Linked DNA regions of Homo sapiens. The protein of the gene in region 2 purifies or fractionates together with the protein of the main gene of each other region. This does not show direct contact. Each region holds a gene or a part of one and is shown on either strand. Other genes may lie near its edges. The genes, in order: ZMPSTE24 and OR51V1.

Region 1 (3,830 bases), on a different chromosome or scaffold from region 2:
TAAATGAGAAACAAAACAATTCCTTTTTTATTACACAGGCACTATATGAAAGGTACCTTAAATCATACAGACAAATCCCTAAGATAAAGAGCCTGGATTCTTGGCTTACCACATGGAAGAAAGTCACCTGATAACTAAAAATACTCACACTGGACTATTACGTGATTGAGAAATAAACCATTGCAAATAAGCCTGTGATATTCTGGGATTTGTTATTGTAACTAATGTTATGCCAATACAGCATGGGTAACCAAGGACTATGCAAACAGAGAGGCAAATCTTAACATTGGCAGAAGCCAAAAAATTAACTTTAGTGGAAAGCCTGCCAAGCTAAAAGAAATACCATGACAAATACATGCTAATGAATCACATACCTCATATTCTGGTCCAAAGCCAGCATAACCACAGAACCGTCCAGAAAGTCTCCAGAGATAAGGTATTCCTCCAAAGAGAAGAATAAGCTATAAAACAAAGCATACTTTGATCACAGTTGAACAGTACTAGAAACTATCATATGAGAAAGCATGGTATAAAGAAAGAAAGGACAAAATAATCATCTCTATTAAAAAAACAAAAGAGGCCAGTACGGTGGCTCATGCCTGTAATCCCAGCACTTTGGGAGACTGAGACAGAAGCATCGCTTGAGGCCAGGAATTCAAGACCAGCCTGGGCAACAAGGTGAGTTGAGACCCCATCTCTACAAAAAATTTAAAAATTAGCTGGGCCTGATAGTGCGTACCTGTAGACCCAGCTACTTGGGGGACTGAGGTGACAGGATTGCCTGAGCCTGGGAAGTCAAGGCTCCAGTGAGCCGTGATTGTGACACTGCACTCCAGCAAGGCAATAAACTGAGACCCTGTCTCAAATAAAATAAAATAAAATAAAATAAAATAAAATAAAATAAAATAAAATAACAAAATAAAATATTTTTTTAAAAAATAGACCTATTTCACATTTAGCATAAATTATGCATTTAGATGAGTACTAACCATTGAGATACTAAATTTAGGTGGTTAATATAACATTTTTGTCTGTACACTATATATGGATGAATTGTATGGTATATGAATTGTATGGTACATGAATTATCTCAATAAAGCTGTTCTAAAACAAAACAAAAAAAAACCTTTTGTCAAAAGACCACAACAAAATCACAAACTAAACTTAGAAAGGTTAAACAGCTGGGTATGGTAGCATATGCCTGTAATCCCAGCACTTTGGGAGGCCAAGGCAGGCAGATTGCTTGTGCTCAGGAATTCGAGACCAGCCTGGACAACATGGTGAAACCTGTCCCTACAAGAAATACAAAAATGAGCCAATTATGGTGGCATGATTCTGTGGTCCCAGCTACTCGGGGGAGCTGAGGTAGAAGGATTGCTTGAGCCTGGGATGTCGAGGCTGCAGTGGGCCATGATCGTGCCTGCACTCCAGCCTGGGTGACAGAATGAGACCCTGTCTCAAAAAAAAAAAAAAAAAAAAAAAAAACTTGTTCGAAATCCAACAGCTAATGAGTGATAGAAATGGAATTTGAACCACATTAATATGGCTCCATAATTGTCTTTTCTGTGAAAGAAAATAGTCCTTTTCCATCAGAACAAAGCACAGAAGTGGAGAGTCATGTCCACTTACTAAACTGGGGAACAGAATGGGATTATCTGTGTCTTTGCTGGGTCAGGAAGAGGTGAGGTAGGGGCCCGGCTTTCACAGGAGAAGGCTCTTCCTCAGCACCACCCTTTGTCTTGGTCTTGGGCAGATAAAGTGAACACAGACATTCACTAAATAACCAGGACATTAGGAGCTAGGAAGCAGCTCAAAATTTGAGAAGAATGCATGTTTAAGAATTCTACCGCCCAAAACACATACAACTTTGTGGAACTCATTTGTCAAGAGGAATCAATTTATTTTTTCTCTCTGTAGGACAGCAGCTTAGGAACACAATGATCAATCACATTCCTTGACTAGAAGCACAATATTCCCACTGGTTCAGACATAGTTCCTCATGGTTTGAGGGGTTTTGGTACTATCATATTTCATGGGTACCCTTCCAATCTAATTCCCATTTTCATACATGTATCTACAAATAATATAGTGATTTATGTATGCTTTTAAAGAATGTATATAAATGACATCATATTATACTTATCAGTCTATGATTTGCTTTTTATATTCTAAATTTTCTTAGATCCATCCATGGTGGACTTCAACTTTATTTGGTATTATCAGGATATTTCCTAAAGTGTTTATAACAAATTACACTCCCATCAGCAGTACTCCAGTGTTTCTGTTTTCCCACAATCTCACCCACACTTTAAACTATCCATCTTTTAGACTGTTACCAGTACATTGGATTGGTTTAATATCATGGGTCTCAAATATGGTCTCTGGACAGCAGCAACAGCATCTGGGAATTTCTTAGAAATGCAAAGTCTCAGGCCCTACCCCAGATGTACCAAATCAGAAGCTGGAAGTGGGGCCCAGCAGTTTCTAGGTAAACCTGATGTACACTAAAGTTTGAAAATCATTGCTTTAATAAATTGTTTTCTTTTTTTAAGAGACAGAGTCTCACTCTGTCACTCAGGCTAGGGAGCAGTGTTATGATCATAGCTTACTGAATTTTTGAACTCCTGGGTTCAAAGGATCTTTCCATGTCAGCCCCCCAAGTAGCCAGGACTGTATGCACCACCATACTTGGCTAATTTTAATTTTTTGTACAGATGGGGTCTCACTATGTTGCCCAGGCTGGCCTCAAGCAGTCCTCTCACTGTGGCCTCCCAAAGTGCTGGGATTACAGGCATGAGCTACTGCACTCAGCCCCAATAAATTGCTTTTCAAAAGGCTCCCCTAACACTACCTCCAGGTATTTCCACTTTACTACAACTAATTCAATCTTAGACATAAACCTTGTTTTCCCAAAAGACATGCTTTGGTACCACTGTCTGACATATGCTGTAGTTGTTGATCTAATTGACCTGGGATGGTATTTCTTTCAGCCAATTCCCAATACTAATAAATAATGTATAATTAAGGACTTATAATGCTTTTAGTAAAGGCCACAGCAACTATTATTAAAAGTCCAGTATTTAAATAAGCATCAAGGGTAGTTTTAATATGAATTCTGAATGATCTATAAATGCATTTGAAAACTGATACTGCAAACCTTTTGGGGACTGAAAAACAAAGCATGTTTAGTTTCTTTTGGGGACTGAAAAACAAAGCATGGTGAACTGTACAATGTCTCTATGTTGACAATTTCACTAAGCATGCTCCCAGGGTTGTTCTATGGCAAAATTAATGATCCCAGAAAAAATAATTCCAGCGCTTTGACATATATTATTTCACTACATTCTTTTTTTTTTTTTTTTTTTTTTTGAGACAGGATCTCACTCTGTCACCAGGCGGGGGTACAGCAGTGTGATCACAGCTCACTGCAGCCTCCATCTCCTGGGCTCCAGCAACCCTCCCACCTCAGCCTCCAAGTAGCTAGAACTGCAGGTGCACATCACCACACTCAGTTGATTTTTTAAAAATTTTTTTGCAAAGATGGGGTATCACTATGTTTCCCAGGCTGGTCTCAAACTCCTGGGCTCAAGTGATCCTCCCACCTGAGCCTCTCGAAGTGCTATGATTACAGGATTGAGTCATCATGCCTGGCTTCACTACTACAGTCTTGAAAAACAGGCAGGGAAAAGGGTATAATCATCTCTATTTAATAGATGAGGCAACTGAAACTCTTTAACTGAAAGGTTACTTTAACTGAGAGGTTGAAGTAACTTGTCCAAAGAAACCCAATGACTAAGTAATTCCTACGCATTGAGCTTCATTTACGCTAT
Region 2 (3,182 bases):
CCTCTTTATGAACTGTAGCTTCCCTGTCCAATATAGTGGCTGCTGAACTGAACTGTCCAATACAAGGACATTAAACATTTAAATATAAATTAACTTAAAGTAACTGAAATTGTAAATGCAGTTGTTCAATTACACTACCATCATTTCAAGCGCACAGGAGCCATATATTCCACTTTAGCCATTTTATGGTATTTTATAGAACATCGCCATCAGTTTAGAAAAGTTCCCTTGGACAATTCTGGTCCATACAGATATCACAACATTCCTGTGAGTTGGCTATAGTCTCCATTTTGAAGGTTAATTAAGTAAACCTCAGAGAATGAAAGAAACTTCAAGTTTTCTACTTTGAAACTTGAAAACCTAGGTTTTTAATCCAGCTTTGTTTTACAGCAAAGGAAATGCTCAAAAGTACATTTCAGGCAAATAAACAATTTTTTCCTCTTTCTTAAATATGGTCAGACTGATAGAGTGACCTACATGTGTCCAGGCTGACACAATGGAACTTGTTTGTTGATTCTCTGACTATATTTAAATATTTTTTAAGGTCATTTGTCATGGACTCAGAGTAAATCTACAATTTTAATAATTTTTTCTTTTTTATGGCACTGATTTTTGTTTATTATTGTTGCTGCTTTTCTTTCTTTTTTTTAGGCAATACATCTCAATATCTCTCAATATCTTTTCAGAGAAAAGAGTCTAAGCATTCTGGTATGAATCTGTTGGGTCTTGACACTGTAGATGATGGGATTCATTAAAGGTGGGAAAAGGATGTAGATGTTGCCAATGAGAACGTGGGCCACGGGGGAAAGGTGCTTGCCAAAACGGTGCACCATTGTGAGGCTAATGATAGGGATGTAGAACACAAGGACAGCACAGATGTGGGAGATGCAGGTCTGAAATAATTTATGCCTCTCTTCCTGAGAGGCAACTGCCAGGACTGACTTAAGAATCAGGATGTAGGAGAAAAGGATGAGTATAGCATCCAACAACAGTATGCAAATAACCAGCATCAGGGCATAGTAACTATTGAATCGGATGTCTGAACAGGCTAAGCGGAGAAGATCCTGGTGCAGGCAGAAAGAGTGAGAAAGGATGTGGAAATGACAGTAATTAAAAAATTTCAGACAGATGATGGGGGGTGTAATAAAGAAAAAACTCCTACCTATTATAGTGAGCCCAATTTTGATAATTCTGGAATTAGTCAGGATGGAGGAATAACGTAGTGGATTGCAAATTGCAATGTACCGGTCAAAGGCCATAGTGAGGAGGACAGAGGACTCCATGAAGGACAGACCATGGATGAAATAGGACTGGGCAATGCAGGAATCCAAGCTGATCTCTCGAATGATCCCCCACAGGATCCCCAGCACTGTGTACACAGTGGACAGCCCCATGCACAGGTCAGTGAGGGCCAGCATGGACAGGAAGTAAAACATAGGCTGGTGCAGGCTTGGCTCAGTCCATATCACATGGAGAACCATGCAATTGCCCAAAAGCACCATGGCATAGATTGAGGAGAAGGGGATGGAAAGCCAGGGGTATTGCTGCTCCATGCCAGAAAATCCAGTGAGAAGAAAGGAAGAATTCGTGCTGGTGCTAGGGCTTACTGAAGTAATCATTCTGGAACTGAGAAACATGTGAGAGTATTTTTTCAAAGGAAATGTTTCAATTTCACCTGAATACAATGAAATTTCTAAGTAAATGAAATACCCTAAAACTTACTGACTTAAAAAAAACAGCTGAGAAATTCTGTTTCTTTGAGACATAGTATCCATTGCCTTTGAGAAAATGGTCTTCTTTTGATGTCATTTAAAAGTCATTATTTTTTCACTGTCTGGATGTGAACATATCCTTAGAAGCCATAAGCAAAAACAAATAAGGAAGAGATTAGTAAAAGGAGAAGGCTAGTTTTAAAAAAATACGTTGCTTAGACATTTTCCCAAGGATAGTGGTAAAAATTTTATACCAGTAAAGAGCCGAGGTTCTTGAAAAATTATTTTCTTCTCTCCAATTCATTAAACATTCGAAGTGAAGAGTAATCTTTGGGCTTTAAATATCATAAGTCTATTAAATAGTCACTTTTCCGTCATTTTCCATTTTGTGCCGTCTCCAAGTATATTTTTTCTCCAAATACTATTTAATGAAGATACTCCTGTTTTCTCCCCCTCCAGATGACGTAGCCAGCAATTACTTTTTCTTCATTGGTGATAAGCAGACAGGAATATTTATGCATGAGACCTTGGGTAAATGATTTCTCACTGGAGCTCTGGCCTCTTGAGATGTTCAACTCATTTGTGCCTTTGTGATGTAGAGAATTAGATTGAAGACACTGAGCCTTTGATAGCAGCTCAGTGCTTCCCATTCCTTTATTTATTCAGTTAATGAGCTGATTAACTATTTATTCAATATACATTTATTCAATGTATTGGCCAATTGTGTTTTCTTTCTTAGAACCTGCAGTTCTACAGATCACAAAGCCAGGCTCAAACAAGCAAGCTTATAATTTCAAAAGCCTCATGGTAGCAGAATCAATTGGCTTCTTCTTTACATTGTTTGCCTGCTTTAAGTTCCAGACCTGAGAATCATCATAAGTTTTTTTAAAGCTCTAATAATGTAAACAGATGTTCAAAAGTCCATACTTTCATGTTTGATTGAGTAACTTCGAGATGTTAAAGTAACTTCAGATTTGGGCTGCCCTTTATGTCCTACTTTTCAGCTTTGTCTTATTAGCCTCACAACACAGTTCCACAGACTTTCTTCTCAATGTACTCTCTATACTACACTGACGTCTTCTAGCAGTCTAACCATTGTTTTTCTTGCCCTGACTCCTTCTCAGCATTGAATAACTTAGCTCACTATTTTTAATACTTTTTTCTCCATAGAATGCTTGAAGTTTCTTCGTTTCTTGCAGAGGATTTTTCAGTCTTTTGAATACGTATCTTCTTTCATTTCTCTAAATCGAATTTCTCTTCTTTCGTAAAATTTTTCTCGAAATGTTCTATCTGCCTAAATTATTCATCATCTTTTCCTCAATTTCTTCCTACCCTTTTTAAAACGATCTTGCAACTCAACAATCACTTTTCAAGAAGTTTCTTAAGACAAATTTATCCATATATCTATTATTTTGGTATCATGTTTCAATTTTAAATAAAACTTATAATTTTGTATTTATTAGCTAAATA

The links.
Region 1: the proteins of OR51V1 (region 2) and ZMPSTE24 purify together in Homo sapiens (affinity purification with mass spectrometry; one large-scale study listed by BioGRID and IntAct). This does not show direct contact.

The regions. Positions count from the first base shown.
Region 1 is NC_000001.11:40,264,417-40,268,246, reverse strand, and holds part of ZMPSTE24 (CAAX prenyl protease 1 homolog), read right to left. Parts: intron 462-3,830; coding exon 375-461; intron 1-374. UniProt on the Homo sapiens protein: Transmembrane metalloprotease whose catalytic activity is critical for processing lamin A/LMNA on the inner nuclear membrane and clearing clogged translocons on the endoplasmic reticulum.
Region 2 is NC_000011.10:5,199,064-5,202,245, forward strand, and holds OR51V1 (olfactory receptor 51V1), read right to left. Parts: upstream 1,620-3,182; coding exon 672-1,619; downstream 1-671. UniProt on the Homo sapiens protein: Odorant receptor.